Regions from separate parts of the Homo sapiens genome. Here region 1 is linked to region 2. Evidence: fine-mapped expression QTL. A gene starts in region 2. The other region holds a variant in brackets. All regions are shown on one strand. Distances are between the middles of the regions.

Region 1 (11,726 bases), 82 kb after region 2:
TGGCATTCCAGGAGGTGTCCTGCCTAACCCTCACAACCATCGGTGAGGTAGCTACCGGCACTACCTACTCAGGCAAGTGACAAAACTCAGAGATGTTGGGCATCTTACCCAGAGTCATACAACTGGTAGGTTGTAGACAAACCAGTAAGTTTGAATCCAGCTCTGCCTGACACCAAAGCCCACGGTTACCCTGAAACCAAGCAGGGCTGATGACCTCCAGTAGTCCCCTGAATTGGGTCTCAGCCTCCTGCCCTTTGAGTGAGATGACCCTTGGTGGGGGTCCACCCATCTTTTCTTTCTTTTCTTTTTTTTAGACGGGGTCTCCCTCTGTCACCCAGGCTGGAGTGCATGATTACAGCTCACTATAGCCTCAACTTCCCTGGGCTCAGGTAATTGTCCCATCTCAGCCTCCCAAGTAGCTGGGACTACAGGTGCCTGCCACCACACCTGGCTACATTTTTTTGTATTTTTTGTAGAGATGAGGTTTCGCCATGTTGCCCAGGCTGGTCTCGAACTCCTGAGCTCAAGTGATCTGCCCACCTCGGCCTTCCAAAGTGCTGGGATTACAGGCGTGAACCACCGAGCCCGGCCACAAACATCTTTTCTAGATGCAGCAGCTTTCAAACCCGTAAAGTGGTAACAATACAAAATGCATTTGACACCTCTATGCTTTAGGTATGTACACACATATGCACAAACAGCCACAGCAAAGCAGCACCTGCTACACAGAGCACCATGGTGTATGCCATGGGTCCTGATTGGGTTTTACAGGCTTTCCCGGAATTCTGAAGGCTGTGCCACTGTTCCAGCATGTTCTAAGAGTCCCCGAGGCAGCCTTCCAGCTGTTCTGCGTGGCTGAGGGCTGGCATGTTACTGAATCTCTTCTCCCCCCTCAGCATCACTTCACTTCCATCCCTGAAGGTAGTGACTGTGTCCTGGAGCCACAATCTTCCAGTCATCACAGGGGCCCCAGTTGCGCTTCCTTCTCTTAAAGACCTCTTTGGAGACAGAGGGCAGCAACCTGCCTACTGTCTGCAGGGAATGCCCCTCCATGAGTCACCCACCCACCAAAGCCCAGCAACCCTTGAGACTCACAGAAAGCCAGTCCTCAGCCTGCCCGTAGCCCATCCCTATGTCCTTTTTAGAATGTCGGCAGATCTTGCCTTCTCTCTGCCATCCTATTCCCCAAAAACTGGGAGAGGAGCCAAAAAACCCCCTCTCCCAGAATCACTGCACTCATGACAGTTCAAGATCAAGTAACAAACGGAACCATCCGCTGCACGCCTGGAAGGAGGCAGGCACTCATTCACCCGCCAGATGCCTATCCAGGATGCACTCCCTGTGAGGCGCTGCTCGTCCACTCCTTGGGGCTGGGGCTCTGTCTGGCGGGAGAGCTGCCAGGACAGCCAGCAGACAGAACACAGACACCCGAGCTCAACCAAGGCAGGTGCTGGGAGAACACAAAAAAGAGGCACAGTGGCAGATGTGGCGGGGAGTAGCAGGGTCAGTCACATTTGAGAGGAGACCTTGTGGGTGGGTGAGGAGTGGGCTTTGGGGGCGCTGGTGGCTGAGGGTCCCAGGCACAAGGCCCTGGGTGGGACGTAACCAGTGGGTTCTGGAAAATGAAGGAAATCCAAGAAGAGTGAGGAGGGGAAAGTGCAGCGTGGTGGGCAGAAGCCCCCTCATGTGAGGCCTTATGGGCTGTGGTAAGGAAGGTGCCATGGAAAACAATAGGAGGGTTTAAAGTAAGAAAGTGTCATGAACTGACATGTTGTTTCAGAAGTTGTCTCAGAGTGGGCTGGACGTGGTGGCTCACGCCTGTAATCCCAGCACTTAGGGAGGCTGAGGCGGGCAGATTACAAGGTCAGGAGTTCGAGACCAGCCTGGCCAACATGGTGAAACCCGGTCTCTACTAAAAATACAAAAATTAGCTGGGTGTGGTGGCAGGCACCTGTAATCCCAGCTACTGGGGAGGCTGAGGCAGGAGAATCACTTGAACCCGGGAGGCAGAGGTTGCAGTGAGCCAAGATCATGGCATTGCACTCCAGCCTGGGCGACAAGAATGAGACTCTGTCTCAAAAAAAAAAAAAAAAAAAAAGTTAATCAGAGTGGCATGCACCTGCGGTTCCAGCTACTGGGGAGGCTGAGGTGGGAGGATTGCTTGAGGCCAGGAGTTTGAAGTTTCAGTGAGCTATGATGGCATCACTGCACTCCAGTGTGGGTGACCGAGGGACACCCTGTCTCAAATACAATACTGCCTACTGTCTGCAGGGAATGCCCCTCCGTGAGTCACCCACCCACCAAAGCCCAGCAACCCTTGAGATTACAGAAAGCCAGTCCCCAGCCCTGTCTCAAAAATGAAAAATAGGCCTGGCGCGGTGGCTCATGCCTGTAATCCCAGCACTTTGGGAGGCAGAAGCGGGCAGATCACGAGGTCAGGAGATCGAGACCATCCTGGCTAACACAGTGAAACCCTGTCTCTACTGAAAATACAAAAAAATTAGCCGGGCGTGGTGGCGGGCGCCTGTAGTTCCAGCTACTCGGGAGGCTGAGGCAGGAGAATGGCATGAACCCGGGAGGCGGAGCTTGCAGTGAGCCGAGATCGCGCCACTGCACTCCAGCCTGGGTGACAGAGTGAGACTCCGTCTCAAAAGAAAAAAAAAAAAGAAAAACCGGAACTTATCCCTCCCAATAGCCATGCTTTATTAATGTTTTATAATACTAATTGCTACCATTTATGGAGAGTTCGTTAATCTTCTAACAACCCAGACAATAGATATTATTACCTCTGTGCTATCAGTGGGGAAGGTTGACTCTGGCCAAGATTTGAGCGCGATCTGACTGCCTTCAGAGCTCAGGTTCCTGATGGAGAGGAGGCAGGCGCTACTTGACGTGTAGTGGTCGGGGAAGCCCTCGGCTTCTCTCCTTCACTGTCTGCACATCCTCTCTTGGCCCCCCTGGGCATTTTCTGACTGTTTGATCATTGAGTGGCTTAAGTGGTCCCTGAGCTCAGAGTGACAGAGCACGATCCACAGGATGGGGGCCTGGGGCTAGTGGCATCTGTGCCCCTTAACTGAGAACAGGCTTCCTCGAAGCTCACTGGTGCTGACTGGCTGATACCACTCATAATGGCACACCTGGCAGGGGGATCCCTCCATCCCCTCCCCTTTGTCATCGTTCCAGAAATCTTCACTCAAAATCTCAGCCTGTGTTTTAGTTCAGGGTGACAATCATGCTGCCTCTCCATGTCCATACTAGAAGGGCAGGGAAAAATCTCTATTCCTTTCACCTAAGCCCTCATAGATTTGGAGTTTTCCCAAAGAAATGTTTCCTGCCGGGCGCAGTGGCTCACGCCTGTAATCCCAGCACTTTGGGAGGCCGAGGCAGGTGGATCACGAGGTCAGGGGTTCGAGACCAGCCTGACCAACATGGTGAAACCCCGTCTCTACTAAAAATACAAAAATTAGCTGGGCGTGGTGGCGGGCGCCTGTAATCCCAGCTACTCAGGAGGCTGAGGCAAGAGAATTGCTTGAACCCGGGAGGCGGAGGTTGCAGTGAGCCGAGATTGCACCACTGCACTCCAGCCTGGGTGACAGAGCAAGACTCTGTCTAAAAAAAAGAAAAAAAAAAAAGTTTCCTATGAAATATATCAAACCCCACTGGAAGCCAGGCACAGTGGCTCATGCCTGTAATCCCAGCACTTTGGGAGGCCAAGGCGGGCGGATCACGAGGTCAAGAGATCGAGACCATCCTGGCCAACATGGTGAAACCCCGTCTCTACTACAAATACAAAAAATTAGCTGGGTGTGGTGGCGCATGCCTGTAGTACCGGCTACTCGGGAGGCTGAGGCAGGAGAATCGCTTGAAACTGGAAGGCGGAGGTTGCAGTGAGCTGAGATCACGCCACTGCACTCCAGTCTGGGCAACAAAAACGAAACTCCATCTCCAAAAAAAAAAACCCCCACTGGATAGGCAGAGCAAGTTTTACTGTATTTTATTTATCCTATTTTATTTTTTTGAGACAAGGTCTTGCTCTGTCACCCACACTGGAGTGCAGTGGCGCCATCATAACACACTGCAACCTCAAACTCCTGGGCACAAGGGATCCTCTGGCCTCAGCCTCCTGAGTAGCTGGGACTACAGGTGCAAGTCACAACCCCTGGCTAATTTTTCAATTTTTGCAGAGACAGAGTTACCAAGGCTTATTTTGAACTGCTAGACTCAAGTGATCCTCCTGCCTTAGTCTCCCAGAGTGTTGGGATTACAGGCGTGAGCCAGCAAGCCTGGCCTAGAGCAAGTTTTAGAGTACAGTTTGTTATTGTTTGTATGGCTGCTTTTTTTTTCTTTTCTTTTTTTTTTTTTTTTTTTTTACAGAGTCTCACTCTGTTGCCCAGGCTGGAGTGCAGTGGCACAATCTCAGCTCACTGCAACCTCCGCCTCCTGGATTCAAGCGATTTTCCCGCCTTAGCCTCCTGAGTAACTGGGACTAGAGGCAGGTACCACCACGCCCAGCTAATTTTTGTATTTTTAGTAGAGACGAGGTTTCACCATGTGGGCCAGGCTGGTCTTAAACTCCTGACCTCAAGTGATTTGCCCAACTCAGCCTCCCAAAGTGCTGGGATTACAGGCACGAGCTACCACGACCGACCTGTTATGGCTTTTTTAAATTATTTATTTATTTATTTATTTATTTATTTGTTCAAGACAGGGTCTTGTTCTGTCACCAGGGTTAGAATGCAGTAGTACTATCTCGGCTCACTGCAGCCTCGACCTCCTGGATTCAAGCAGACCTCCCACTTCAGCCTCCAGAGTAGCTAGGACTACAGGTATGTGCAACCATGCCTGGTCAATTTTAGTTTTTTGTACAGCCCAGGTCTCAGTATATTGCCCAGGCTGGTCTCAAACTACTGGGCTCAAGTGATCCTCCCACTTCCACCTTCCAAAGTGCTGGGATTACAGACGTGAGTCACCATGCTTGGCCTGTTACACGGCTTTATTGAGATTTATTTCACATACCACAAAATGCACCCTTTTAAAGTCTACAGTTCAGTGATTTTTAGTATATTCACAGATATGTGTGACCATCACCACAATCGAACTTTAGATTATTTCAACTCCCCGAACCCTGACCACTTGACAGTCATTCCCCATTCCTGCACCCTCCTCTCTGCCACCTACCTCCTCACCCCGACCCACAGCCCTAGGGAATTAGTAATTTACTTTCTATCTGTATGGATTTCCCATTGCAGACACTTCCCACAAATGGAGTTATACAACATGTCGTCTTTTGTGACAATCTTCTTTCTACATGTTTCCAAAATTCATCTATGTTGTAGCATGTATCAGTACTGATGCAGGGCAGACAAGCCCCCAAATTGGGGTTTAGCAGAGGAGGATTCTTGGTTTTGTCCGGGAAATAATTCAAGGGTGAGCCGGTGGTGTTAGACAGCAGCTTTTATTGAAGCGACAGTGCACAGCAGCAGAGGTGCTGTTCCTTGTGGAGCGGGGCTACCCCACAGGCCTTGTGCTCAGAGTAGCAGCTCAGAGG[T/C]GGGTCTGCACTCATAGTTATACCCACTTTTAATTGTATGCAAATTAAGGGGTAGATTGTGCAGAAATTTGTAGGAAAATTTTGGTAACTTTTGGGTCATTGGGTCGTTGCCATGGAAAGGGGTGGTAATTTCTGGCTGTTGCCGTGGCAATGGTAAACTGAAATGCTGCACTGGTAGGTGTGTCTTATGGAGACCTGCTTCCACTCCATCTTTGTTTTAGCTAGTTCTCAATTTGGTCCAGTGTCCAAGAACTGACTCTGGAGTCGAGTCCCACCTCCTACCTCAGTATTTCATTCTTTTTTTTTTCTTTTTTTCTTTTTTTTTTTTTTTGAGACAGAGTCTCTCTCTGATGCCTAGGCTGGAGTGCAATGGCATGATCTCGGCTCACTGCAACCTCTGCCTCCCAGGCTCAAGCGAGTCTCCTATCTCACCCTCCCGACTGCAAGTCGGGACTTGTAGCTGGGACTACAAGTGTGTGCCAGCATGCCCGGCTAACTTTTGTATTTTTAGTGGAGAAGGGGTTTCACCATGTTGGTCAGGCTGGTCTTGAACTTTTGACCTCAAGTGATCCACCCACTTTGGCCTTCCAAAGTGCTGGGATTACAGGCATGAGTCACCGCGCCCAGACTGAATAATTTTCTCTTGTATGGATATATCATATTTTACTTATCCATTCATCAGTTGATGGATATTTAGGTTGTCAGTACATGAACATTTGTGTACAAGTTTTTTTTTGTGTGTTGACATATGTTTCAGCTCTCTTGAGTATATCCTAAGGAATAGAATTGCTGGGTTTTACAATAACTCTAGGTTTAACATTTTGAGGAGCTGCCAAACTGTTTTCCAAAGTGGCTGCCCCACCAGCCATGTAATAAGCATTCTAATTTCTCCACATTCAACACTTGTTATTGTCTGTTTTTTTACTGCAGCCACCCTAATGTGTATGAAGAGGTAGCTTATGGTTTTGATTTGTATTCCCATGATGACTACTGATGTTGAAAATCTTGGCCGGGAGCGGTGGCTTATGCCTGTAATCCCAGCACTTTGGGAGGCTGAGGCAGGCGGATCACGAGGTCAGGAGATCGAGACCATCCTGGCTAACAGTGAAACCCCATCTCTACCAAAAATACAAAAAAATTAGCCGAGCATGGTGGCGGGCGCCTGTAGTCCCAGCTACTCGGGAGGCTGAGGCAGGAGAATGGCGTGAACCCGGGAGGCGGAGCTTGCGGTGAACCACTGCACTCCAGCCTGGGTAACAGAGCGAGACTCCATCTCAAAAAAAAAAAAAAGAAAATATTTTCAAGTATATAATAGCTATTGGCATATCTTCTTTGGATAAATGTCTTCAGATCCTTTGCTTATTTTTATCCAAATTGGGTTGTCTTTTTATTGTTGAATTTTATTGTTCTTTATATATTCTAGATATGAGTCCCTTGTCAAATATATGATTTGCAAATGTTTTCTCCCACCGGGTGTGGTGGTGCATGCCTATAATCCCAGCTCAGGAGGATCACTTGAGCCCAGGAGGTCGAGGTTATGGTGAGCCATGATCATACTGCTGCATTCCAACTGGAGCCACAGAGTGAGTCCCTGTCTCAGGAAAAAACACACACACACACACACACACTTTTTTTCTTCCATCCAATGATTGGTTGTCTTTTCACTTTCCTAATAGTATCCTTTGACACACACAGTTTTTAATTTTTATGAAGTCCAATCTATCAATTTTTTTTCTTTTATAGCTTGTGCTTTTGGTGTCGCAGCTAGAAGATCCTCACACCTCAGCCTCCCAAGTAGCTGGGACTACAGGCATACACCACCATACCTCGCTAATTAAAAATTTTTTTTTGCCTGCGCATGGTGGCTCATGCCTATAATCCTAGCACTTTGGGAGGCTGAGGTGGGCAGACCACTTGAGGTCAGGAGTTTGAGACCAGCCTGGCCAACATGGTGAAACCCCGTCTCTACTAAAAATATAAAAATTAGCAAGGCGTGGTGGTGGGCGCCTGTAATCCCAGCTACTTGGGAGGCTGGGGCAGGAGAATCACTCTAGCCCAGGAGGTGAAGGTTGCAAGGAACTGAGATCGTGCCACTGCACTCCAGCCTAGGCAACAGGGTGAGACTCCATCTCAAAAAAGAAAAAAAAAAAGAGAAAAACATTTTTTTGGTAGAAAGGGGGTCCTGCTATATTGCCCAGAGTGGTCTTGAACTCGGCGTCTGAAAGCGCTGAGATTACAGGACCTGCCACCACACCCGGCTAATTTTTGTATTTTTAGTAGAGATGGGGTTTCACCATGTTGGCCAGGCTGGTCTCGAACTCCCGGGCTCAAGGGATCCACCTACCTCAGCCTCCCAAAGTGCTGGGATTACAGGCGTGAGCCACCGGCCTGGCCTCTTCTCACATTCTTGATGATGTCTCGTGACATACAGAAGTTTTAGATTTTTCTGTTTTTTCTTCCATTGTTCATGCTTTTGGTGCCAAATCTAAGAATCCATTGTCACATTCAAGGCCATGAAGATTTACCTTATTTTTTTTTCTAAGAGTTTTAGATTTTATTTTAAAGTCTATGATCTATTTTGAGTTAATTTTTGTAGACAGAGTGAGATAGTGGTCCAATTTCATTCCTGTGCATGTGGTTATCCAGTTGTCCCAGCACCTTTTTTTTTTTTTTTTTTTTGAGATGGAGTCTTGCTCTATCGCCCAGGCTGGAGTGCAGTGGTGCAATCTCAGCTCACTAACCTCCGTCTCCCAGGTTCACACCATTCTCCTGCCTCAGCCTCCCGAGTAGCTGGGACTACAGCCGCCCGCCACCACACCCAGCTAATTTTTTATATTTTTAGTAGAGACGGGGTTTCACCATGTTAGCCAGGATGGTCTCGATCTCCTGACCTTGTGATCCGTCCACCTTGGCCTCCCAGCATGCTGGGATTACAGGCGTGAGCCACTGCACCCAGCCTCCAGCACCATTTTTTTAGAAAAGATTATCATTTGCCCCATTGAATGGTCTTGGTAACGTTGTCAAGTGTCAAATTGACATCCAGTGTGTATCATGGATGTAAAAAATATATGTATCTGTTGACCATAAATGTTTGGGTTTATTTCTGGATTCTTAATTCTTTTCCATAGGTCTATATATCTAGCCTTATGCCAGTACCACACTGTTGAGATTACTGCAGCTTTGTAGTAAGTTTTGATATTGGGAAGTGTAAGTACTGCTACTTTGTTTTAAATTTTGTTTTCACTATTTGAGGCCCCTTGGAGTTTCCTATTTCATGGATTCCTTAGAATTTTCTACATACAATCTCATGTCATCTGCAAATAGAGACAGTTTTACATCTCTATTTGTGGATGGCTTTTATTTCTTTTTCTTGCCTAATTGCCTGGGCTAAAACTCCCAGTAGAATGTTGACTAGAAGTGGTAAGAGTGGACATCTTGTCTGTTTCCTGATCTTAGAGGGAAAGCTCTCAGTCTATTAATTTAATAGCATGAAATACGATATTAGCTGTAGTTTTTTTTTTTTTTTAGACAGCGTCTCCCTCTGTCACCCTGGCTGGAGTGCAGTAGCTCAATCATGGCTCACTGCAGCCTTGATCTCCTGTGCTCAAGCAATCCTCCTACTTCAGCCTCCCAAGTAGCTGGGACTACAGGTATGAACCACCACGCCTGGCTAGTTTTTGTATTTTTTGTAGAGACGGGCTTTCACCATGTTGCCCAGGCTGGTCTTAAACTCCTGGGCTCAAGCAAGCCACCCACTTCAACCTCCCAAAGTGCCAGGATTATAGGCATGAGCCACCCTGCCTGGCCTAGCTACAGATTTTTCATAGGTATGTTTATCAGGTTGAGGAAGTTTCCTTCTATTCCTAGTTTATTGAATTTTATAATCATAAAAGAGTGTTGAATTTTGTCTTGCTTTTTCAGCATCTATTGAGATGATCATGTAATTTTTATTCTTTATTCTCTCAATTTTGTGTGTTTCATCGATTGATTTTCAAATATTAAACCAACCTTGTATTCCTGGGATAAATCCCACTTGGTCATGGTGTATAATCCTTTGTATACGTTTCTTGATTTGTTTTGCTTGTATCTTTTTGTTGTTGTTGTTTTGAGACAGAGTCTCGCTCTCTCTTCCATGCTGGAGTGCAGTGGCGTGATCTCAGCTCACTGCAATCTCTGCCTCCTGGGTTCAGGCAATTCTTGTGCCTTAGCCACCAGAGTAGCTGGGATTACAGGTGTGTGCCACCACACCCAGCTAATTTTTGTATTTTTATTAATAGTAGAGATAGGGTTTTGCTATGTTGGCCAGGCTGGTCTCCAACTCCTGGCCACATGTGATCTGCCTGCCTCGGCCTCCCAAAGTTCTGGGATTACAGGTGTGAGTTGTCACACCCAACCGGTTTGCTGGTAGCTTGTGGAGGACTTTTGTTTCTATAGTCACAAGGGATATTAGTCTGTAGTTTTCTTGTGATATCTTTTTCTAGCTTTGGTATCAGGGTAATACTGGCCTCACGGTTGCTTCCTCTTCTTTTTTTGAAAGAGTTTGTGAGGGATTTGTATTAATTTTTCTTTAAATATTTGATAGAAATCACCAGTGAAGCCATCTGGGTCTGGAATTTTCTTTGTTGAAAGTTTTTAAATGACTAATTCAATCTTTTTCCATGTTGTAAGTCTGTTCAGATTATTTATGAGTTCTCCTTCTTATGTCAGTTTTGGTAATTTATGTCTTTCTAGGAATTTTTTCATTTCTTCTATTTATCTAACTTGCTGGCATGCAGTTGTTCACAGTGTTCCCTTATTATCCCTTTACTTTTGTGTGTGTGTGTGTGTGTGTGTGTGGAGATGGACTCTTGTTCTGTCTTCTAGGCGGAGCGCAGTTACACGATCCCAGCTCACTGCAACCTCTGCCTCCCAAGTTCAAGTGATTCTCCTGCCTCAGCCTCCTGAGTAGGTGGGATTACAGGCGCCCGCCACCACGCCTGGCTAATTTTTTTATTTTTAGTAGAGACAGGGTTTCACATGTTGGCCAGGCTGGTCTTGAACTCTTGACCTCAAATGATCCACCCGCCTCGGCCTCCCACAGTGCTGGAATTACAGGCGAGAGCCACTGCACCCAGCCCCCCTTTACTTTTTATAAGTATTGATAGCTCCCTTTTCATGCCTGAGGTATTAATCTGAGTCTTCTCTTTTTTTTTTCTTGGTCAGTCTAGCTAAACAGTTGCCAATTTGTTGATCTTTTCCAAGAAAAAACTTTTGGTTTTACTGACTTTCTCTATTTTTTCTATTTTCTATTCCATTTATTTTTACTCTTACCTTTATTATTTCCTTCCTTTGGCTTTCTTTTGGTTGAGTTTGCTCTTCTTTTTCTAGTTTCTTAAGGTGGAAGTTTAGGTTATTAATTAGAAATCTTTCTTCTTTTCTAATATTGACATAGTTACAAATGTCTCTCTAAGCACTGCTTTAGCTGCATCCAGTAAGTTATGTTATGTTGTGTGTTAGTTTCCATTCATCTCAACATATTTTCTAATTTCCCTGTGATTTCATCTTTCACTCATTGATTATTTAGGAGTGTTTTTAAATTTCTACATATTTCTAGCCAGGCGTGGTGCCTCATGCCTGTAATCCCAGCACTTTAGGAGGCCAAGGCAGGCAGATCACTGGAGGTCAGGAGTTCGAGACCAGCCTGGCCAACATGGTGAAACCCTGTCTCTATTAAAAATACAAAAATTAGCCGGGCATGGTGATACACTCCTGCAGTCCCAGCTACTTGAGAGGCTGAGGCAGGAGAATCACGTGAACCCAGGAGGCGGAGGCTGCAGTGAGCCGAGATAGCACCACTGCACTCCAGCCTGGAGGACAGAGCAAGACCCGCCTCGAAAAAAAAAAAAAAATTCTACGTATTTGTTAATTTCCTTGGTTGTCATTTTCTAATTTAATTCCATTGCAGTTGGGGAACAGACTTTATGTAATTTCAATCCTTTTCCATTTATTGAGGCTTGTTTTAAGGCCTAGTATAAGTCTACCCTGAAGAGTGTGTCACGCGTAGCTGAGAACAATGTGTGTTCTGCTGCTGTGTGGAGTGTTTCGATGTCTTTCAGGTCTTGGCTTACAGTGTTGTTCAAGGCTTCTACTTCCTTGTTGATCTTCTGCCTCGTTGTTTTATCCGTTATTGAAAGTGGGG
Region 2 (11,726 bases):
GTATTCCATTGTATGGATATACCACAATTTGTGTATCCATTCATCCACTGAAGGACATTTGGGCTGTTGGATCATAGGGTCATTCTATGTTTAAAGAACTGCCAAACTGCTTTCCATAGCTGCTGAACCATTTCACATTCCCATCAGCAATGCACGAGAGTTCTTCCTACTTTCATCATTAACTAGGGGATTGCTATAACCTTGGAAGGCAAGGAGATGGTTACTAGGTGCTAGCAGGGGTAAAACGGATCAGGATAGTACCGGCTCCATGCCCTGCACCTTCTACCACAGTCTTCTAAGGCTGGTTGGCAGGCCTGGGAAGGCAGCTAGCTGGAGGTGGAAGGAGTCTTCCATTTTTTTCCCCAAGACATGTGAATCAGATGGTGAAATCTAGAGCCTTAAAGTCAAGCTGGGTGTGGCCCTGCAGGAGTTGGGCTTGTGGTCTACCTGGGCCTCAGTGGCTCATAATATGTCCTGTTAAGGACAGATACAGACTGTACCTTCCTTCTCCTCCTCCCTGCCCTGGCCTCATCTTTCTTGTCTTTTCCCTTTCCCTGTCAAAGGCCTTCTTTCACTCTTTCCATCTCTCCATACATCCCTCCCTCTCTTCTTCTCTCTTTCCTCCCCTCCCTCCCTCCTGCTTCCCCTCTTCTTCCCTTTTCTTCTGTTTTTCTCCACCTCTCATCTTCTCTTCATCCCAATTCTGTTTGCCCCCTCCCCTCACCCTCCATCTCTTCACTCCAGCTCCAGTCTCCTGTCTCCCTCCTCCCCCAACTAGAGCACTAAGGTTGCAGTTCACTCACCCACCCACCCGGGCAATTCTTTTTTGTTTGTTTGTTTTTTGAGAAAAAGTCTTGCTCTGTCACCCAGGCTGGAGTGCAGTGGTGTGATCTCGGCTCACTGTAACCTCCGCCTCCTGAGTTCAAGTGATTCTCGTGCCTCAGCCTCCCGAGTAGCTAGGCTTACAGGCGCGTGCCACCACGCCCGGCTAATATTTGTATTTTTAGTAGAGATGGCGTTTCTCCATGTTGACCAGGCTGGTCTCAACTCCTGACCTCAGGTGATCCACCTGCCTTGGCCTCCCAAAGTGCTGGGATTACAGCGTGAGCCACCTCGCCTAGCATGAGCCACCTCGCCCGGCCCCACCCCGACAATTCCTTTTTTTTTTTTTTTTTGAGATGGAGTTTCACTTTTGTTGCCCAAGCTGGAGTGCAATGGCGCGATCTCAGCTCACTGCAACCTCTGCCTCCCAGGTTCAAGTGATTCTCCTGCCTCAGCCTCCCAAGTAGTTGGGATTACAGGCACCTGACACCATGCCCAACTAATTTTTTGTATTTTTAGTAGAAACAGGGTTTCACCATATTAGCCGGTCTGGTCTCGAACTTCTGACCTCAGGTGATCCGCCTGCCTGGGCTTCCCAAAGTGCTGGGATTACAGGGGTGAGCACCGCATCCGGCCCCATCCCGACAATTCTTATGCCTAAGGGACCAAGTGGGAAGGGAGGAGGTGGGGAGCTGCAGGCATGCTTATGGACTGTAGCCACAAGCCCCTCTCCCCACTTAGGCCCTGGGAGGTCACCCAGAGTGAGGTGGGTGCTAGGAACCCTCTCCCTTGCGGTTATTCTCCCCTCCTACAGAGAAAGGAGATCCACTGGCATCAGCAGCACCGAGCATGGACCTGGCACACAGCAGGGGATCAGGGATCCAGTTCCGGTCTCCAGTTTGGGCAACAAAAGTGAAACTCCATCTCAAAAAAAAAAAAAGAATTGTCAGGGTGGGGCCGGGCACGGTGGCTCACGCCTATAATCCCAGCACTTTGGGATGCTGAGGCGGGTGGATCACCTGAGGTCAGGAGTTCGAGACCAGCCTGGCCAACATGGTGAAACCCGGTCTCTACTAAAAATACAAAAATTAGCTGGGCATTGTGGTGGGTGCCTATAATCCCAGCTACTCGGGAGACTGAGGCAGGAGAATCGCTTCAGCCCGGGAGGCAGAGGTTGCAGTGAGCCGAGATCGAGCCACTGAACTCCAGCCTGGGTGACAGAGTGAGATTCTATCTCAAAAAAAAAGAGAAAAGAAAAGAAAAAAGAAATGCGAATTCTCAGGCCCCTCCTCAAATCTGTTGAATCTGAGACCTTGAGGGGAGGGGAGCAATCGCTGGTTTAACATGCCCTCCAGGCAACTGGGCTTTTCCAATTACTTTCAGAGCCACTGCCCTACCACAGGGGGAGCCCTGGCTTAATGAGGGGGGCAAGGTGCCTGACTCAAGGAGCTCCCAGTCTGATGGGACAGATGGAACCCTTGCCATCTGACAGGGAAGACAGCCTTGTGCTCAGGAAATTCCCACTGGGAGGGGAACACCTCGGCTTTTCACTCCAAGCCCCTACGCTGGTCCCTCCCTGCCAGAAGCAACGGGATAAGGTTCTCTGGAGGAGGCTGGCTACGGCTCCGACCCCAGAGAACCTGCCTCCACTTTCTGTCTCCATTCTTCAGAAAGCGGGTTTGATGTGCTAATGAGGGCATCAGTTAGGGAGCATCATTAGCATTCATTACAATAACAAGCAGGGAAGCGGGGAGGGTCTTTAGAAATTTACTGCCACTCACTCCTCTCCTATGGAGTGGGAGGAGGAGCAGGAGGGTGAGGAATGTGAGAAGGGAGGCTTAGGGGCTCTGGGAGACCAGGCTGTGTTCAGAAAGCCCCAGAAGCAGGCCTGGGGCAGCGGGAAGCACCCTCCTCCTCCTTGGCTCCTCCCCCACCCCTCTTGTGCCCCAGGTGCTAGGTCACTGCCCCTGGTTACTTGACCCAGAATAGGACCAGGTCCCCAGGCCCTCACTGTCTGCAGGCCACCCTTAGTGGAATGTGGATGGTTCCTTGGGGTCTCATGAAATGCCTGGCCAGACAACAGCCCCATGGACCGGGGGCTTTCTCAAGGATACTGGGCTGGGGGTGCTCCAAAGCAGCAGAGTGACCAGTTTGGGGTGTCCCAGCCATTATTTCCACGTCACCTTTTCCCTGTGCCTTCTCCTAGAGGCCCAGATGCCCTTCTCTGCCCACCCCAAGGCCCATCTCCCTTTGCCTGCCCAGATGTTTGTCCAGATGCAACCCCTGTTCCTATTGCATCTTGGGGAAGGAGAGGCAGGGCTGAGAATTCTCTCCTCTAGGGTGCACCCCCATAACCTCTCTCTCGCAAGCTCCCAGGAACAGGTGAGGGCTGGGTGGGATGTTTGGGGAGGCAAGGTGAGTGGTTAGGATCTGCTGTTCCAAGCCCCAAACATGCCAGCTGCCCCCTCCCCACCAAATACACTGCCAGAGGCACAGGAGAGGAGGACCAGAGGGAAGTTACCTGTTGAGGAATGAGAGCGGGGGCGGGGCGGCACCTGAGGCATCTCAGGTGGAGGCAGCTGGCAAATTGGTTGTGCCTGGGCACCATGCCAGCTTACAGGAGCAATTCTCATCTCTCAGCTGAAGTAATACCTGTGTTGCTTTTGCCCTGATCAGTGGAGATGGTGTCCCCAGCCTTCTCTCTCCACCAGGAACCCCTCCTTTTGAGACCTGGTGGGAGGAGGGAAAGGCACGTATTTTTCTTGGGGTCAATGAGGGGCGATGATGCCAGGCCATCTGTCCTCTGGCTCCACTTTCAGCCTTGGGACCTTGGGTTCTATTCAGGGAGCTGTATCCCTTCTCACCCCTCCAGGAGACCCATGGAGTCAGCTGGGCAGGGTGGGTGTGGACAAAGCATCTTTGGGGAAGAGAGGGCAGAAGGGTCTCAAATGAGCTGATAGCTATGAAGATGATCAGAAATGCTAAGGATTCATCATTAAAAGGTGAGCTATACAAATTAAAAATATTACATAAATCTGATTTAAGCTCCTCACTATGGAGGTGGCCTTCATGATGAGCGAGCTCACCTTAGGGCGGGTAAAAATGGATGCTTCGTTCTGCTGACACCTTTGGAACTGTTCCAATCCCTGGGGGCTGCATCACAGAACCTTTCCCACCCCACCCCAAGCCACTGGGGTTGGGCAGGCAAATCTCCACATGATGGCACAAGCATCTTTTCAATTGTCAACTAGAGGTAATGCCTCAGGTCACTCTCTCCACAATAGGACCAGATCCCTGTCTCCTTCCTGATTATGGCATGGCTATACATCTTAACTCTCAGCCACATTCCTGATCTCAGTTCTCTTCTAACGACTATATGGTTATGAGACTTTGTGTCCCAGGGGTTGTCCCTGCTGTGGCGACCCACAGGGTTATGAGATGATGGTGATAGAAGAAAGGCAGGGAGCTTTGACATAAGGCAGATGTGGGTTTGAATTTCAACTTTGCTGCTCTTACATTGGGCAATTGGCTATATCTCTCTGATAGGGGGTTGAAAATGCTCACTTCCATCAGGCTGTCGAAAGGGTAAAATTAGAGATTATGGTAGAGCACCTGCTAATTTTCTTCCCCTTAGGCACAAAGTGGGGGAGGGAAGAAATCTTGTCCCTTGGGGGGAATCTGAGTTGGGGGCAGGTGAAGGGCAGGAGTCCTGTGCAGTCAGTGGGTGAGGAATCTGAACGGAGGAGCGACCTGTGCCAGAGCTCTGGGCTCCCAGCCGCTTGGGAGGTGGTGTCCGTGTGCTGAGGGGAAGCTACCCTTGCCTCCCCTGAGCCTCCCCCACACAGAGCCTGCTGCCTCCCATGCCCATCCTGGGCAGGCAGCCAGGCAGGGCACTGGATGGATGCCCACTGTGCGCTCAGAGGCCAAAAGATGGGCACCATCCAGTTGGCAGAGGGAGAGGCAGTTGGCCCAGGAGGGAAGAAGTCAGGGTGCCTGCCGCTGGGGTCGTGTGCCCAGACTGTGTGTCCAGGACACAGCTCTTGGCTGTCCTCCTGATCTGTCCCACTGGAGCTGGGAAGGGCCTCTCCTCTGGTCCTGGCCCTGGCATCTGAGTTACTGCAATTGGTTATTTATCTCTAAGGGGAATCTGGGACCTTGTCCCTAGCTGGGCATGTGGTTGGCTCAGGGGCAGGCCTGGGGGTGGATAGGAAATTGGGAGAGCCCAGATTAAGGTTGCAACTGGGTAGACCAGGAAGTGGGGAAACCGGTTTGTCATTTGGGCCACTTGGGGTGGGGTCTCCTCTCCTGGGCTCTCTGCCTGCCTGCCACTCTGCCTGATGGCCCACAGTGAATAGAAGTACTGTGTCCACTCTCTTGCTCACCTAAACTGCTTTTGGAAACTCCAGAAGTAAATAAAAGGGACAGGGGACTCAGCCCACCTTCTCCTCCGCAAGAAAGCTTGAGAGAGAAGGGACTGGCCAGAGCATCGGAGCGAGGGAGGGAGGGGGCCGCTGGAATCACGAGGTGTCGGCGCGGGCCTGGGTCTGGGTCTGGGTCCGGGTCAGCGCTGGAGAAGTCTGCGGAGCCAACAGGTAGGCCAACGAAGGTGGGACGCGGAGGGGCGGGGGACGGCAGGGTGGAGCCGAGCTAGTGCTCTGCGGGCTGAAGTAGAGGCGGCAGTGACGCCGCCAAGCGAGGCGTGAGCAGGGACCGTCGCTGGAGCGTCCTACGGTGGGGTCTCACTGGCCGGAGGGGCGCGGACCTGCCTGCAGTTCCCGCGCACGCCTGCAGGAGGGGCTGCAACCCGGAGCGGGGGCGAGGCGGCGGCCCAGCAGGGGGCGCCGGGGAGCCCAGACCCTCCGACCGAGCCGCGTCTAGGCGCGCTGGGGTGAGGGGTCGCGAGGCAGAAGCAGAGGAGGATCCGGGCGCTCCCAGCATGGGGCGGCTGTTGGTTTCCGCGGTCACCTTGGCTGAAGGGAGCCCCCAGTCTCGCCGCCCCGCCTCCCCACCCAGCCCCGAGAGCCTTTCCATCCCTAGGCGCGCCCGGGCTTGGAGACCCAGGAGTCCTCCACCCTCCAAGTGTCCCCGCTTCCCCGGGTGCCTCCTCCGAGCCGGTCCTCGGTCAATGTATTTGTCTCTATCGTGGCGCGAAGACTACTTGGGGTGGGACGAAGCAGGTGGCGCGGGAAGGAGAGAGTGAGCGCGCCCCGCGCCCGGCCCCGGCCGCGCGCTGCGGGATCACGCGGTGAAGCTGGAGGGCGCGAGAAGGCGCAGTGCCCCCTCCCCTCCCCCGCCCCCGCCGCCCCGGGCGGCCCTTTGTAAGTTCCGGCCACACGCGCGCGCCCGCGCCGCGCGCGCGCCCGCCCGCAGTGACACACCCGCGCCGGCCCGCGCGCGCGCAGACACACACTCAAACACACACACACTCGCTCTCGCACACTCGGTGACACGCCCGCGCGCGCGCTCACCCACACGCCCGGCCGCCGGCGCCCTCCCAGCTGGTCCACCCCGGCGGGGCCCGCGCCCCCGGCCCGCCCGCCTGGCACCGCGCCCCGGGGCTGGGGCCGAGCGAGGAGCCCGCGAGGCGGCGAGAGGGCGAGCGCCAGGCAGGCCGGCCCGGGGCCCCCGCCCCCCGCGCCCCCGCCCGATGGGGAACGCTCCGTCCCAAGGCATGTCCCTGTCTCTCTCCTCCCTAATGTGCCTCCATGCTTAAGTGGAAGGTATTTCTGTTTTCTTTGTGTGTTTTCCCCCTCGGCCGGGGGCGGGGGCGGCGGCCGGGCCGGGGAGGCGGTGGCCGGCGGGGCGAGGGATGCTGGGGCGCAGGTGTGTGGGGGCAGGGGACCGCTGTGCGCCGGGCTTGGGAGAAGGACCCGGGCGAGAGGAGTGCTGGGACCAGAGAAGGGGGCAGGGTGGCGAGGCAGGAGACTGGGTGGGGAGGGCCTCACTACGCCCCGGGGTGGGGGCCAGAGGGGTTCAACTGTAAAGGGGCTTGTGTGGAAGGGGGAGGGGTGAGGAGAAGAAGGGGGATGGATGGTGAGGAGGGTGGGGGGAGAAGGGCGTCCCTCCGAGGTGGGGGAAGTGGAGGATGCAGGGGAGGGGAAGGGGATGGAGAAGTGAGGGGTGCATCAAAGGCCTCCCTCCCCCAGCTCCCAGAATGGGGTGCACGGGCTAGGATGGTGGTGGTGGGCCCTTTGCGCCAGCCTCCAGGGAGGGAAGGGGATGAGTGCGTTCTGGGGTTGGCCGCGTTGCCAGGATACAAGCCTGTATTCCACACACCCCCCCTCCCCGCACCTCGAGGCCCTAGCCCTGGAGACCTCTGAGCCTCAGCAGCAGTTGCAGAAACTGGGGACCAGCTCCCCGCTCTACCAGCGGGTAGGGAGGGCCACGAGAGGGAGGGGTTTAGGGAGGGGCTATTTGATCTTAACCCCTCCCCCTGCAGAGGCCAGGGGGCAGGGGAGGGCGCCCCCAGCTGGGGAGGGCATCTAGGGTGAGTGAGAAGATAGGGAAGGCAGGCGGCTGAGGGGTGGAGGGTGGGGCTGGGAAGGGGACGCACCGTGGCCCCCCCTCCCCTCCCACGCACCCCCCTGCTACGTCAGAAGCTCCCGGGCCAGCTCCGAGTCCTGTCGGTGGGGGCAGCAGGATGCTGGTGGAAGCAGAGGGGACAGGCCGGGTGCCTCCGCAGCTCAGCTGTCAGGGCCCGGCGGGGCGTGTGCGGCTGCTGGTGCTCGTCCCCCAGCCCCACGCGTCCCCATGCAGCCCTGGCAGTGCCTCCGGCGCTTTGCCCTGGCCTGGTGGGAGAGGACGGCGGAGGGCAGAGCCCGCTCTCCCAGGGAGGAGGCTGGACCGAGGGACCCTGGGGGCCGAGGGGAGCCAGGTGAGCAGGCGCGGGGAAGTATGCAAGGAGGGGGATCTTCCCAGCCCCCCTCCTCAAATGTTGTGGGACAAGGAGGTCCTGCAGCACCCCAACTTTAAGGAAAGTGGGCTCCCCGAGCTGGGGGTGGGGGTTTCTGGCAGCAGCCTTTCAAAAGGAGATGGAGGAGCTGCTGTCTGTTTTGGGGAAGGGAGAAACAGGTGAGGCTTGGGAGTGAGGGAAGCTGACCAGACTTCCAGGTTTGTGGGCCTGAATGTTCCTTTGGGTGGGGTTTGAGCACTTTTGGGGGGTCGTCAGGATACCTTCTTCCCGACTCTTGGTATCTTGGTCTGGGTGACCTTGAGCCAACTGCTTTGCTGTCTAATTCCTTGCCTCAGTTTCTCTTATTCCCATCCCTTTCCCTCTTGTTGATCTTTAAAAATTGATGATGCATTTGATGGAGATTGTGAGGCTGTCGCCACTGGTGGCAGCTGTGATGGTGGTGGTTTCTGGTGTGGTTGTATGTGGGGAGCAGCTATGGTGCATTTGAGGGGTTTTGCTGGTTCTGGTTGGTGATGGGCCACTCCATACAGGTGTCAGGGACATGGGAAGGAACATTCACACAGGAAGGAGTGCTCCAGGCAAGCTGAGAGTTGCTGGGGACAGAGACTTAGCTGGTGGCCTGGGGTAGAAGCAAGGGATGGGGTGAGGGCTCTGGGCATAAGGGGAGGGTTTCCAAGAATAAGATGCACCCCCCCTCCACCCCGCTGTCCCCACCCAGACTGCCTGGCACCCAGGCACCACTGGCAGCAAGTGCAAAGGCTTTGCCCTGGCTTCCTGCCACCCTGCCTTGGGGACAAGAGGGTCTTTGTCCAGTCCCCCCACAACAATTCCTGCTTCTTCTGCCCTTTCCACGATGGCTGGTTCTCTGTGATGACCCTCAAGGCTGGGATGGAGGCACAAATCCCCCTTCTGGCTCCCACTGTCTGTGCCCTGGAGCTCTATCTGGAAGAGGCAACTGTGGTCCTCGGGGAGTGCTGAGTGGAGAGGGATGCTCCACTAGGGGAAGGGTCGCTCGAATGAACCCCTCAAAGAGCTACCCCCACCCCAGGCTTTCCCCTGCCCCTCTACTTGCCTCCTTGCCTAATGCGGAGGGTCTGGGGTCTTCGTGGCCTCATCCCTGCTGGGTTCCAGGCGTCTTAAAGATGTGCAGGATACTGGGTTGGGCACTGGGATGCAGGGCCTCTCTGATGCACTCTCGCGCTCTCTCTCTCTCTTTCTCTCTCTCTCCCCCTCTCCCCCCTCCCTTCCCTGTCTCTCTCCCTCTTCCCTCTCTCTCGCCAGGGACCCACCCTGGAAAAAGGGTTTAATTAGAACCATTGATTCCTTCTTTGGCTGTGGGCATCGACAGTGTGGTCAGAGCTAGAGGGTGGGGGTGGCATGGCTGCCATCTGCCTATGCCAACCTTGGAATTCTCTGCCAAAACCCCAGCCCTGGAAGTGCTTAGGAGGGAGGCGGCTGGGCTCTTTGAAGTACCCAGTTTGTTGAGCCCCCACCCCCACCCCAGGTTAGGTTTTGGGGAAAGAAGGGAGACAGTGTTGAGGATTTGAACTGAGGGAGCTGAGTTTGGGGCTCAAGGAAGAACAGTTCATGGCGTCTGTCATCCTGGGTAGCAGGCCTGGGGCACATGAAGAGGCAGCTGTGGTGGGGGGTGCTCTTGCAAAGGGGCCTGTGGGTGCTGGGCAGGCAGGGAGTTCAGGGGAAGGATCCAGGGCTTGCCATAAAAGCTGCTCTTTCGAGGAATCTCAAGCATTTATCTCCTCCAAGCCCTGGCAAGGAAATCTGTTTTCTTTCTTCATTTATGTCCTTGAGGCCCAGAGAGGGACACAGACTGCCTCAGAGGCCCAGCAGACTTAGGTCTAGCTTTAAGCCTGGTTTCCTGACCTAGGGACCCCTGCTTGGGCACAAGCTGCTGAGGGTGAGTCTCCTGGTAGCTGAGGCTCTGGACTCTAGGATTTGTGGGGGGTGGGGGACAGGTTGTGCCCCCCAAGTCCTGGCTGCCTGCTGTGGGTGGGCTGGTGCAGGTGCAGGCTTCAATGAGGCACTCAGATGCTCTTTGAAGAATCCCTCACTGGCTTCCTAGGGCCCATTCGAGCAAAGATAATAAAAATCTGGCCGTCAGCGGGTTTGAGGGCTGTACTCGCTTCCCCTTCTTTCATTCCAAGCTCTGAGTAGCGGAGATGAAGGCTTCGGATTTGGCTGGGAAGCAGTGCCTGCCCCGAGGGAGGAAGGGAGGGAGGCAGTGAAGGAGGGAGGACTGAGTTCCTGGCAGCCAGGGGAGTTTCTGGGGGAGGTGGGCAGAGGGGCAGGGGCATGGTCCCCAACTCCTGCCAAGCAGCCTAGAACCTCGGGGTCAGGGTTCCTCTACCCGATACCTGGGCTCCAGAGCACTCCCCTGGATGCCCTCAGTCTTCGCCCCTCCCCCATCTCTCCTCTGTGCCTTTCCGTCTTCCCATTCCTCCCCTCCCGCTCCCTGTTCGTCAATTTCTCCTGCGCTGCCCTTCCTGCTGTCTCTCTCTCTAACCCTGTCCTCGTCTCTTCTTCTGCCTCCCCCTTCCTCCCTCTGACCACCCCTCCCATTGTCTGCCTCCCCTTCCTTTCCCCAGCTCTGGCCCTGCTTTCGAGGACTGTCTGGAAGGTTGAGAAGCCAAGCTGGGGGCGGGGAAGTGGCCTCAGAAGGGATGGGCCTGGGTTAACTATTATGGTCTGTCAGGTGCCATAATTGTCAGAGTCCAGGAAGGGCTGCAGAGCACTTAGCGATGTGTGTGTGTGTGTGTGTGCGCGCGAGCGTGTGTGTGTGTGTGCGTGTGTGTGTATGTGTTGAGGGCGCCATCCCCCTCCCCACACCACAGCAGGCACCTTGCCCTGACATTGGGCTCTTCCTCCCCTGCCTCAAACACCCCAGGTTCCCTGCTCTTCTGCCCTGCCCCTCATATTTCTCTTTGCCTACCTCCAGCCTCCCGCCCCTCCAACCGCGCGGCCCCCCAGGTGCTATGCTGCCCTTGCACTGCCCCTCACACCCACCAGACCATCTCCAGGTGCAGAGGCGGTAAGGGAGGCATCCAAGAAGCCTCTCAGCTCCATCTCCCACCCATGTCTCTGATGGGCCTGCCTGGAGCCCCATCCACGCCCTGGGGCCCCTTTGCAATGTTATAAACCCCCCAGCAGAAAGACAAGACCCTGGTGGAAAAAGCACTGCACTAAGTCAAGAGAGCTCATTCTTATCCTTCCTCAGTGCCCAGATGTCTGCGTGACCTTGAGCAAGTCCCATCCCAGCGCGGGCCTCTTTCCTCACCTGTGAAATGAGGGGGCGTGGGCTGGCTGATCTCCAAGGTTTCTTGTGACATTCCAGCGGTGTTGTGTCTCTCTTCTGGGTGATTTGCATATGCTTTGCATATATTAATGGTGCCTGCTTGAAGGGGGAGGGTGCCGCCCACACCCGGCCCAGAGTCCCACCCACCATTCCAACTCCCCTTGCCCATTGGCCCATGCTTTTGCTGCTCCGATTTCCCAGAGGGGTGAAAGCTGGGCTTGAGCATTCCCTGGGGAGGTGAGTCTGGCCCCTGTGTTCCAGCCATGCTGGGGGCAGGGTTGGGGGGATGGCTGTAGTCGAGGGGACCCCTGCCCTCAGCACTTCTGCTCCAAAAGGTCAAAACAGAGAAGCCAAGTGGTGGGTGAATTCACCAAAGTTGCCTGTGGCTAGCTAGGATGGGGTGTGCAGAACCCCACGGAGGCCTGATACTGCAGCCGGCAGAGGGGCTTGAGGCTGTGCACCCTCCAGGGCCTGCTAGCCCTCTGCCGGGAGCTTAGCCAGGTGTCAGAGCTCCTCCTCCGGCTTCACCTCCCAGGCTCAACCCATGGCAAGTCCTGCCCTTGTGCCCCTGCCTGCTTTTGCCCATTCCCCTGGGCTCTGGGGATGTGTGTGCTGAAACCTGGGCCTCAGAGATGGTCAGTGAGAAGGACTAGGTCATTCATTGCCTCTCTGGGCCCTCTT

Alleles and levels. Alleles are on the strand shown, and positions count from the first base shown. SD is a standard deviation of normalised expression in the study named.
As copies of C replace T in region 1, the expression in esophagus mucosa of the gene that starts at base 6,223 in region 2 goes down (small effect, 0.25 SD a copy in GTEx).

What was found. PIP is the estimated chance that this variant, and not a neighbour inherited with it, causes the effect.
Region 1: its variant is the best candidate, but not a certain one, in a credible set for the expression of SRCIN1 in esophagus mucosa (GTEx, PIP 0.63).

Annotation. Positions count from the first base shown.
Region 1 is chr17:38,517,952-38,529,677 of GRCh38, reverse strand. No RefSeq gene overlaps it. Among named protein-coding and RNA genes, the nearest start is that of SRCIN1, 82 kb to the left of the region's middle. The variant T/C (reference allele first, on the strand shown) is at 5,549.
Region 2 is chr17:38,600,449-38,612,174 of GRCh38, reverse strand. It overlaps SRCIN1 (SRC kinase signaling inhibitor 1), which reads left to right and starts at 6,223. Exons shown (of 19, transcript NM_025248.3): 1 at 6,223-6,491. The coding sequence starts at 6,470. RefSeq lists enhancers at 2,347-3,017, 4,161-4,761, 4,762-5,363 and a silencer at 11,665-11,726.